Homo sapiens: one gene and its partners. The protein of the gene in region 3 interacts with the protein of the main gene of each other region in a pairwise test. Each region holds a gene or a part of one and is shown on either strand. Other genes may lie near its edges. The genes, in order: PTTG1IP, CBLIF and SLC22A23.

The links.
Region 1: the proteins of SLC22A23 (region 3) and PTTG1IP interact in binary tests that used the Homo sapiens proteins (3 or more experiments, as listed by UniProt).
Region 2: the proteins of SLC22A23 (region 3) and CBLIF interact in binary tests that used the Homo sapiens proteins (3 or more experiments, as listed by UniProt).

What each region holds. Positions count from the first base shown.
Region 1 is NC_000021.9:44,853,035-44,856,781, forward strand, and holds part of PTTG1IP (pituitary tumor-transforming gene 1 protein-interacting protein isoform 1 precursor), read right to left. Parts: intron 3,331-3,747; coding exon 3,159-3,330; intron 2,223-3,158; coding exon 2,176-2,222; intron 1-2,175. UniProt on the Homo sapiens protein: May facilitate PTTG1 nuclear translocation.
Region 2 is NC_000011.10:59,843,792-59,847,538, forward strand, and holds the start of CBLIF (cobalamin binding intrinsic factor precursor), read right to left. Parts: upstream 1,709-3,747; 5' UTR 1,663-1,708; coding exon 1,584-1,662; intron 265-1,583; coding exon 88-264; intron 1-87. UniProt on the Homo sapiens protein: Promotes absorption of the essential vitamin cobalamin (Cbl) in the ileum. After interaction with CUBN, the CBLIF-cobalamin complex is internalized via receptor-mediated endocytosis.
Region 3 is NC_000006.12:3,455,437-3,459,183, reverse strand, and holds the start of SLC22A23 (solute carrier family 22 member 23), read left to right. Parts: upstream 1-2,133; 5' UTR 2,134-2,624; coding exon 2,625-3,278; exon of another isoform or gene 3,279-3,481; intron 3,482-3,747.

The DNA of each region.
Region 1 (3,747 bases), on a different chromosome or scaffold from region 3:
AAGACACCACTCCAAGAGCCTGGCCGGCCACCCACAGCCTCACACCCGCTGGGAGTCAGGGCACAGTAAAGGTCGAGCAACTTAAACACAGCTTGTGCTTGGTGATAACAGGTGCTGGGCAGTGTGTGCGTGTGTGCGCGTGTGCGTGTGTGTGTATCCACCTTGTCTTTTATTTACATTAACATTAGTCTGGCTGGGTGTGGTGGCTCATGCCTATAATCCCAGCACTCTGGGAGGCCGAGGCGGGCGGATCACGAGGTCAGGAGATTGAGACCATCCTGGCTAACACAGTGAAACCCCATCTCTACTAAAAAATACAAAAAATTAGCTGGGCGTAGTGGTGGGCACCTGTAGTCCCAGCTACTCAGGAGGCTGAGGCAGAAGAATGGTGTGAACCTGGGAGGCAGAGCTTGCAGTGAGCTGACATCGCGCCACTGCACTCCAGCCTGGGCGACAAGGTGAGACTCCGTCTCAAAAAAAAAAAAAAAAAAAAATTAGGTGCCAAAAAGCTCTTGACTCTTCCATTTCAAGGAAAGCACAATGCCTCCAGCCAAGGCCTGCAGAGATGCTGCTGGGCCCACGCTCCACGTACACAGGCATGCACTCGCTGAGGAGGGCAACCCTGGTGCTGCTCCTTATGACAGTCACACGCAGGTACCCGGTCACCACCCACTCCAGACACACACCGGGAAACAACAGGCGACAGAGAGGGTGGGGCAAGGACAAGGCAGCAGTGAAGAGAACCCAGAGAGTCAGCGCCCAAGCACACGGCACTCAGGAGACTGATGGGCGGGAACACATAGGAAAAAGCCTCTATCAGCCACTGGGCATCTCGAGGCCAGCAGCCAAGGCAGCCTCACGCCCCCAAGCCGACACTTCGAGACCGGCAGGACTCACGTGGCCTCAGGTCACAGCACAGTCACATGGAGGTGACTTTCCAAGGAGGCCAGAACTGACAGGGAGGGGACGTCCCGGCCAGTGGGCAGAGCCACCCAGCGTTTACAGTCCAGGGCACCAGCAGCATGGGGCCTCTGCAGCCCCCATGAGAGGGAACCCAACGCCAATCACCTGCACCTGACGGAGGCGCCGCTCACAGTGGCTGCTGGGCTTTGCCGTCCACCCCCCACCCGATGACCGAGAACCGCAGCGACGTCCTCATGCCCCCAGTGGGTGGGACCCTAAAATACCACAAATATATGATATTCCCTAAAACAAACAGAAGACTCAAAACACGTGCATTAGTCAGAAAAGGCTCTGAAATTTTCCAATTAGGTTTAGCCTTTAATATACTGCTTCAAGGAAAGCACCGTGGGCGCAGGACGACAGATTCCTGAGGCCCACGGCTGCCATGAACCCAGGACCACGCACCTCGCACAGGCGAGGAGTCAGTTCCCACCATGTCCATGACGCCACACAACCACAAACCCAGCGCGGGAGACGCCCATGACACCACACAACCACAAACCCAGCGCGGGAGACACTAGACTCTTTGCGGACTTTAAAATCATACAGAATCAACGAAGCACGGCTGGGTGGTGGTGTTCAGTGTTAAGCAGTGAACATCACGTGGTTTGGGGGAGTATAGATAACGTAATGTGTATTTCCAATTCACTCCAACTAAATAAAAGGTTTACACTTGGCAAATACATTCATTCTGGCTCCTTCAAAGCTCCTCTCCAAAATCTCTCCAGACACAACCAAACAAGAACAGAACGCCGAGGCTGGGCGAGAAGGAGCAGGGCCGGTGCTGGGGAGTGCTTGGAAGGAGCGCCTGCCACACTCAGAAGATGGCAACGAGCAACGCTCCCGAGGATGAGAGGGCCGCCCTGAAACTCACAGCACCTCGGCTACGCAGGCGTGCCCACAGGAAGCCAAACACGACGGCAGAACAGCTGCAGACTTCCAGCCCAGAAGTCTTGGGACTCGATAAGCAAACAGCTATCTGAGAAAACAGACTTCATGAAGACGACTGGCTGAGATAAAGATATTCTTAGGAGTGAGTTCACCACAGAACCGCTGGGGACAACCGCCAGCTGCTCCTCTCTGGAGAGACGTCCTTCTGTTCCGATGGGTGAACCCACAGCCCCATCTCAGGCCACACTGGCACTAACGAGGACCGAGACAGCGTGCCATCGCCTCCCAACCAGACAAAAAGGAGGCGTGACCAGTCCTTACCATATTTTTTTCTGATTTCATCATGTCTTGTCTTCATCTCTGCTCTCCTAAAACACAGAGGAACATTATGAGCACCAAACGACAGCGCACGGTGGTGTAACTGCTAGACACGCCCTTCCGTGTCCCTCAGTGGGGGCGCCAGGTTTCTTCTGGTGGCTTCCCTCCAGTTCCCAGAGTGAAACCAGGGTGAGGACAAGCTTGGTCATCAGGCCACATACCCACCAGGACAGGCAAGGTGACAACGAACCCAGTCTTCAAAGGCCGTTCCAATGTATTACTCTACTCTTTTCAATAAAAGCAATTCAAATGCCCAATACCGTGATTTTTAAAAAGCTTTTTTCATACAAAGAAAACACAGTAAAAATCATACACCAGGTTCTGAAGATGGTGAGGAAAATGCGATTGTCAGCTTTTACTTAGTAGCATGTGACTTCAAGGTGACTACATGGAAAATCTGTCCCGCTTCCACCCTCGCCCGCCGCCAACCTGACAGTTGGCCCCTCAGGTCCTCTCCTTTGCCAGGTGTGGATTACACCACCTCCTCCTGGGGTTGCCCCAGAGCCCCAGCAAGCACTCAGGAGAGTGCTGTGTCACCAGGGAAAGGGCGACAGGAGAGCTGACCCAGCCACAGTCAGACGCTGTCCCCTCTGAGCCTCAGCTTGCTCTTGGCAAATGCTGGGCCTGGACGAGCCGCCTTAGCAGCCGTCACACACCCGTGTCACCGCGCACAGACTCAGCCTTACTGCACCGATGGGAGGACACCGGGCGAGGAAGCCTATAGAAGCAAGGTTCGCAGCCACTGCTAGGTTCCCATCACAGTCTCTCGCTCTCTACCACGACCTAGAAGATCCCCTGGGCACTATACACATTCTTAATTTCTAAAAACTGAGGAAAACTCAGGATGTATCCATGTGATTTCCATGGCCTTGCAGATCTGAATCCCCTCGAAGTAACCTTCCCAGCGGGCATCACCACCACCTCACCGTTCCTCCTGCCGTATCCGCCTCTCCTCCCGCTCACGCATGGCCTTCTCCTCACTCCTGTCCGGCTTCCGGCTCCTCTTCCTCCTGCAGCAGCAGCAGCAGCAGATGGCAATGCCCAGGAGGAGGGTTCCCCCGACTACCGACATGGTGATGATCAGCGCCTCAAAGTTCACTGGAGATTCAAGCACCTGGAGTTAGGGCCGCCCCAGACACAGAACCCACCCAGCACAGCAGCCTTCCCTCGCCCCTGGGGAACAACCTCAGGACACAGGAGCATAAGGAGGAAAGCCGCCTCGGCCAGGCTGCTGGCTCCTGGCGTGTGGAGAGCCTGTGGCCCTGCCTCCACCCCACAGGGTCCCGCCCTCTCCAAGTCTCCTTTCAGCCACACGTTCCTATCTGTGACTTAGAATTTATTAACAATTTATAATATTAACCATAATGAACTGAAGTGACAGGGTAGTCTGTCTCAGCTGAGTTTGAAAAGGTATTTCAAGCCTGAGAAAAGTTAACTAACCAAAATTCCAAGCTACATACTCAGACTCTCGTAAGACATTCTAAACTCACAGAAATGGAGGTTAAGCCTGATGCA
Region 2 (3,747 bases), on a different chromosome or scaffold from region 3:
GGGGTGGGAAGGACGCTGAGTTGGAATCTGGAGGTGGTATGTGATGTGTGAGATTCAGGGAGAGTGCGAGCGGCTCAGATGTCTCACCGTTGTTGTCGCTGGACATGAGCTGGTAAGTCAGGAGCTTCTGGGCCTTCAAGTTGTAGGCTCCGGCCAGATTCATGGCAATCAGGATGCTGGGGTTTGGGTAGGCTGATGAAGTCACCGAGTTCTCCATGAGTACTTGTATTCCATTGACCAAGGGCTCCTGTGCTGAGGGAACGGCTGAGAAGAGGAAAGCCATTTACTCACCTTCTAACCCTCATTCCTTCTCAAAAACATTATCCCCGTGTCTTTGATGCTTTTTCTTTCTTTCTTTTTTTTTTGAGACAGTGTTACTCTTGTTGCCCAGGCTAGAGTGCAATGGCACGATCTCGGCTCACTGCAAACTCTGCCTCCCAGGTTCAAGTGATTCTCCTGCCTCAGCTTCCTGAGTAGCTGGGATTACAGGTGTGCACCACCACGCCAGGCTAATTTTTGTATTTTTAGTAGAGATGGGGTTTCACCATGTTGGCCAGGGTAGTCTCGAATTTCTGACCTCAGGTAATCCACCCTTCTTGGCCTCCCAAAGTGCTGGGATTACAGGCGTGAGCCACCTCGCCTGGCCATCTTTGATGCCTTTTAGGAGAACACTTGATTAGCATTAGTGTCCTAAGTCACTAAAGAGAAATGGAGAAAATGGTGAGATTTTACTTTTGAGGACAATTAGTTTCTACATCTTCTCAAATAATCCATATCCTTAAGAAAGTGATTTTTAAATTTAGTAACTTCAAGCAATATGGCTCATGACATTTCTCATAGTTTCTATCACTTTCCTGGAAATCACTGATTTCCTTGCATTCATTTTTTTCCTTACTCTTTCATGAAGAGTATTAAAGATTTGGGATATAATTTATCCTCAGTGAGTACCAAAATCTCTCACTAGTATGTAGTGGTGTCTGGTCACAATAGCCACTGAGTGTCTGTCTTTGTACCATCAACCATTATTCCTGCAGTAGTACTTCCATCTCTATTATTTTTATTTATTGATTTTTTGAGACAGGGTGCTGCTGTGTCATCTAGGCTGGAGTGCAGTGGTGTGATTATAGCTCACTGCAGCCTCGACCTCCTGGGCTCAAGCGATTCTCCTACCTCAGCTTTCTGAGTAGCTGGGACCACAGGTGCATGCCACTGCGCCCAGCTAATTTTTTATTTTTATTTATTTATTTTTTTTGTAGAGATGGAGTCTCACCATGTTGCCCAGGCTGGTCTTGAACTCTTGGGCTCAAGCAATCCTCCTGCTTCAGTCTCCCAAAGTGCTGGGATTACAGGTGTGAGCCACTGCACCTGGCCCCATCTCTCTTAATAAAAAACATATAGACTTGTCTCTCAAAGAACTTATGCTATTAAGTCAGGAAGGATGAACAGCACACAATCACACTCAGACTTACCCATTTTGGAATTCCTATAGTGATTGCTATTTTCAACCACTCAGTGTCAGAGGTCACAGCCCCTTCCCCAGGGCAACTGCTTCCCTGACCTCCTTGGAAAAACATCATACTCACAGCATGAACTCTGGGTCTGGGTACTAGTCCCAGCTGTAGCCCAGAGAAGGCTCAGGAGGTAGAGGGCAAACCAGGCCATCTCACTCTCTCGTCTATGTCTCTCATCCACAGGTACCGCGATTTGCAAGTGGAATATTTCTTTACCTTCTCTTATATGTGCTTCCCTTTGTTAAATAATCTGTCCCCAACCCAGCCTCTCCTAACTGCCCCTGTGCTGACCTCTCCTTTCCTGATACAAGTAAGTAAATTTTCATTTGCTTATCTAAGTTTACCGACTATAGACCCTCCAAGGTGTCTGAAGGTGACTTCTAGGTTGCACAGTCATATGAGAAACCTGGGGCTGGGTATGCAGTGAAGGCAATGTTGAGAAAATGTCCTTTACCAAAGGCCTGGGTCAGACATCAGGAAGTTTGGATAATGTGCTAGTATCAACAAGACCTCTTCTAGCCCTTATTGTATCCAATCAGTTACCAGGCTGCTTTTTAGTAACTACTTCACTGGGATTTAGGCCATTCATAGGCATCAGCTCATTTTATGATCCTAGACACCTGCTTTACAACATGTCCTTTTAGGCTCTCAGGCAGGGATCTGCCAGGTGACATCTGGCTTTGTGAAATTAATGATGTCTACCTGGACCTGGATTCTAGCCTAGACTCTTTGAAGTTGTTTGACTTTAGGCAAGAAATGGACCTCGGTTTCCCAGAAATGGTTTTGTTTGATTTCTCTTTCCTTATCTGGAGATAAAAGCCATCTCAAACACCCAAAGCTTTCAGATATTATCTTTTAAAGTAAGTAATTAGAAAATGTGAGATCCATTAAGAATACATATTTCAGATGTGTAGCTACATTATAATGCAAATTATACTTCTTTATAAGGGAGAACTGAAAATGGTATGTTGAAATTATAAAGAAAGGAGTTTTGTTTGTTTTTTTCCTGCATGTAAAGTAGCTCATTTTAAGGGGATATTCTCCAGTGGCGCCCATCTTAGCATAAAAGTCAAAGCCCTTTTCATGACCTATAAGACCTTAGAAGATCTGGCTCCTGGTTTCCTTTCTGACCTCAGCTCCAGGCGTTTTCCCCTTTGCTCACACCGCTCCCATCACACAGAACTTCTTGTGCCCCTTGAACACATCAGCTACCTTTGCACATGATGTCCCCCTCAGCCCAGGACCCTCTTCTTTTAAATAGCCTCATGGTGGCTTCCTCACATCCTTCATGTCTCTGCTCAGAGGTAAGCTTTTAGAGACGCCTTCCCAGGCCACCCTACATAAGATCCTACATCCTCACCTCCACTGACACCCCTCATGCCCCTCGCCTGCTATAACTCATTGCCCTCTGTCGCACTAAGTGTGTGGTTGTTTATCGTTTGTTTATCTCCCTACTAGAATGTCTGCTCCACGAGGGAGGGGCTTTGTCTCTTTGGCTCACTGCTCTATCCTTAGCCCTTACAACACTACCTAGCTCACAGTAGAAATAAAATACTTTTTGAATGAGTGAATTAATGAGCAAATGTAAGACATGGGTAATAAAGCATTTTTTCCCCCTTGGGAAACATGGGTGAGTTTTGTGAGATGAGAGCACAGGGTACATACTGGGGTGTGCTGGACAACTTCTAACATGGCCCTGTGTTTTCACCTCCCGGTATTCATGCCTTGTGTAGTCCTCTTCCCTAGAGTGTGGGCTGGCCTGGGGCCACATTCTATTATAATGAATATAATGCAGCAAAGGTGATGGGATGTGGTTGCAAAAGACCGATTTCCCTCTTGCTTGCCTTCTCTCTCTTGCCCTTCCTGCTCTCATGAAGGCAGCTGCTAAGTGTGAGCTGCCTTATGGAGAAGCCCACATATGGCCCCTGAGAGTAGCCTCCAGCCGATATTCAGGGAGAAAAGAACCCTTCCCCAGTGAGCTTTGAGATGAAGGCAGCCCCAGCTGACATCTTGATTGCAGCCCTGGGAGAGACCCTCCTAAGCCAGAGGACCCATGTAAACCCTCCCTGGACTCCTGACCCACAGAAACTGTGGGATAATAAATGTTGTCTTAGGCCCCTAAGTTTTAAAGTCACTTGTTATGCAGCAATATATATCCAATACATGGTACATGGTGGAAGATGAGGCTGGAAAGACAGTTGGCATCTACTTGGTGGACAGCCTTGCATGCTGTGTG
Region 3 (3,747 bases):
TCCCTATAGTTGCCCCTGTATGATGAAATGGAGAAATCCGGTAATGTCCAGTCAGAAAATCTGGGTTCAAAACCAGATATTTGGCTCAGCTGGGGACCAACTCTTTGATCTGGTAGTCAGTCACCTGATCCTTGCTGTTTCTCTTTGAAAGCCCACTTCTTGGGGCGCTGAATGTGAGGACTGAGTGAGAGTGTGAATTTGAAAGCCAACTCTGAAACGCTGGCTATGATAGTTATTCTGATTGGAAGGGCCATTAAGGTCAATGGCAATGCTCCTTTTGTGATCAGTTACAAGAAAACAAATGGGTCCTTGTGACTGTGGGGGAAGGGAGGCAGAGCCAGACACAAAGTGGACCTCTTCTGGAAAATCAGCCACTGAAAGGAAAATAAATAAAATCCGTAAAGTTATATTTCAATTCAAAAAGAAATGTGGATTGTATGTAATGGCAAGAGGAGCACTGGTAATAATACATGTCTAACATTCATTGCGCACTTACTCTGTTCCAGGCATGGAGGTCAGAACTTTGCATGTATTAGCTCTTCAAATGAGGGGAGGAGAGGGAAGGAAAAGAAAAGTTAAGCTAATAAATAATGTGAAGTTGAAAAATTACCACGTACACAACGTGCACTATCGTGTCCCCCCCCGCCCCAAGCCCCCAGCTCTTTATATATGTGGTTTCCAGACCCATTTCTCAGCGGTCTGGTGTCTTTTGCAGCCCTTAGGGCCCCTTCCGCCCATTGTTATCTAATCACCCCTTCTCGGCCACGCAGGAAGGTCCACAACCTCCCCTGTCCCCCAAGACCCGCCCCCCGGCAGCCTTCAGAAATAGTTCTCTGGTACGTATGTGCCAGCATTTTATGCAGTAAACACATGTTGCCCTTAACACTGAACTGCAGGTTAAAAATGTATTCCACTAAATTGTGCAGCGGTTAGCTGAGCAAATAATGAAAATGCAAAAGAATACATTCAGTATATGGAGCTTAGAATATATCCTTTTGGAAAGCTAAACATTTTTTTTTTTTTTGCCCCAAATAAGACTAGAAATGGATTGCTCCATTTAAGACTTCCATTAATAAACTTCTCAGAATATGAAATGCCTCCAAAATGTGGGGACGCTGGGTTGAAAGGTGCCGGATAATTCTCTTTGGTGCGTGCGCTGGGTGCAGGAGGAAATATGCTAATGTAGCCGTTTGCCGCAGGGCTGGTGTTATTTATACAGCGCTGGCTGGGCAAGGTTGGCGCTGGAGCAGGAGAGGAGGGAGAGGTTTGTCTTCTTGTGTGAGAGTATAGATGTGTGCGCCTGTGCACACGGCGTTCCAAACGTGAATACAAGATCTTAGGGAGGGGGTGGGGAATGCCATCACGTTTATACTGTGTGTATTATAACTTGTGTTGGAGATATATCCCAGCATCGTGCTTACATCGCATGCACTTAGGAGTGGGGGAAGAAATGGCGATTTGGGAGTGGGTGCGGCGGGTCGCAGGTGGCCAGACACTGCGGGGGACTGGCGACCTGAAATTGGCAAAGGCGCCTCCTTGACCCTGCTCCACGGACACAAAAATCAACCTTATTCGCTCCTGGAAAAAGCGCAGAGGGTTGTTCCCGAAGGCTGAAGACCCTCGGGCTTGGGACTGGGAGCGGGGCGCGGGCAGCGGGACCGCCGGGCACCTCTGAAGAGACAGAGGTCACGGAGACCTGGCGCGCGCGGAGTGGGTGGGGGGCCCGCGCGGCTGCGGGAGCCCAGCCTCAGAGAAGACCCGGCCCACACGTTCTCAGCGCACGCCGACTTTGCCGGGACCCGTCGCCGGCCGGCGACCCCTGCTACGCGCGTCTCCTCCTCCCCCGCCCCGCCCGGCGCGAAACGGGCAACGGGCAGGGGATCCTCCAGCCAGGCGGGCCCGGGGTGTCCCGTTTCCCCCGCCCCCCTCCCGTGGATCCCGGGCGGCGGCGGCCGCGCGTCCGGGCTGGAGGGGGCGCTCGCGAGCAGGAGCCGAGCGCAGCAGGTGCCGCGGTTACCTCCACCTCGGCGGGGGGAGAGGGGGCGGGCCGGGGGGCAGGGAGGAGGGGGAGGAGGAGGAGGAGGAGGAGGAGTGGGGCCGGCTCCAGGAGCTGGAGAGCGCGGCCGGCTCGGCAGGCTGGGTCCAGAGCTCGCGGCTTCCGGGAGGCGCCCGAAGTCGGAGAAATACAGCGCGGCCACCCCGGGAGCAGCAGCCTTTGCCCGCACCGCCGCCCGCAGGGCCCTGAACCGCCGGCAAGGGCGCGGGCCGGGCGCGGCGCCGGCTCCTCCTCCTGCCGCGTCCGGCGCGGAGCAGCGGAGAGCGGCGGGCTCGGCAGCCGGCGCCCGGGCCGCGGAACTGATGAGCCGCGGCGGCTGAGGGCCCGGCCGGCCTCTGCCCGCCTCTGCCCGGCGCCCGAGCGGGGCCGCAGCGCCCGGGGCGCGGGGTCCGGCGGGTGACATGGGGGCGGCCTGACGCACCCGGAGCCGCCGAGCGCTCTCTCTCGAGCCGCGGGCCCTCCTCGGCGGCAGCGGCTGCAGGCGCCTGGCCCGGCGCGCTGTGCCCGGGGCGCCCGCGGAGCCTCCGCCGCGCTCTATGCGCCTCTGCGGGAGCCGCGGGCCCGGGCCATGGCCATAGACCGGCGGCGCGAGGCGGCGGGCGGCGGGCCTGGGCGGCAGCCGGCCCCGGCCGAGGAGAACGGCTCCCTGCCGCCCGGGGACGCGGCGGCCTCGGCGCCCCTCGGGGGACGCGCGGGCCCCGGCGGCGGCGCGGAGATCCAGCCGCTGCCCCCACTGCATCCTGGAGGCGGCCCGCACCCGAGCTGCTGCTCCGCGGCTGCGGCCCCGAGCCTCTTGTTGCTGGACTATGACGGGTCGGTGCTGCCCTTCCTCGGGGGCCTGGGCGGGGGCTATCAGAAGACCCTCGTGCTGCTCACCTGGATCCCGGCGCTGTTCATCGGCTTCAGCCAGTTCTCGGACTCGTTCCTCCTGGACCAGCCCAACTTCTGGTGCCGCGGGGCCGGCAAAGGCACCGAGCTGGCAGGGGTCACCACCACAGGCCGGGGCGGGGACATGGGCAACTGGACCAGCCTCCCCACCACCCCCTTCGCCACTGCCCCCTGGGAGGCTGCGGGCAACCGGAGCAACAGCAGCGGCGCGGACGGAGGCGACACACCACCCCTGCCATCCCCTCCGGACAAGGGGGACAACGCCTCCAACTGTGACTGCCGCGCATGGGACTACGGCATCCGCGCCGGCCTCGTCCAGAACGTGGTCAGCAAGGTAAGGGCCGCAGCCGCCCAGTCCCTCCAACCCTCTCCCTGCAGACCGAGGTCCAAGCCCGAGCCAGCGGGAGAACCGAAGTCCCCAAAGTGGTGGTGCTAGAGTGTGTGTAGGGCATTCCGCATTGGCTTAATCTCCTTCCGTCCCCCAAACCACATGCCTTTACTTGGGTGTAAAGGGAGCACCATAGCCTTTACTAGTTTGCACCCAAACTCCTGTCCCAGTACGCGGATGGAAAGCGCGCCCTTCCCCCACCCTCGGGGCGAGGCAGCTGACCTGTCACCAGCCCCCTCTGGAGGAGTCGGACTGGCGTCGTTCAAGGTCTGCTGGGGGAGTCGGGACCACAGCCCTGTTCTGCCCGGCTAGTTGTCCCTGGGTCTCCCACAAAGCAATAGTCTTCCATCTCGCACTTGATTTTGACACAGGTAAAGCCTACTAAAGAACTGGAGAGCCAGAGAAGCAAAGACTC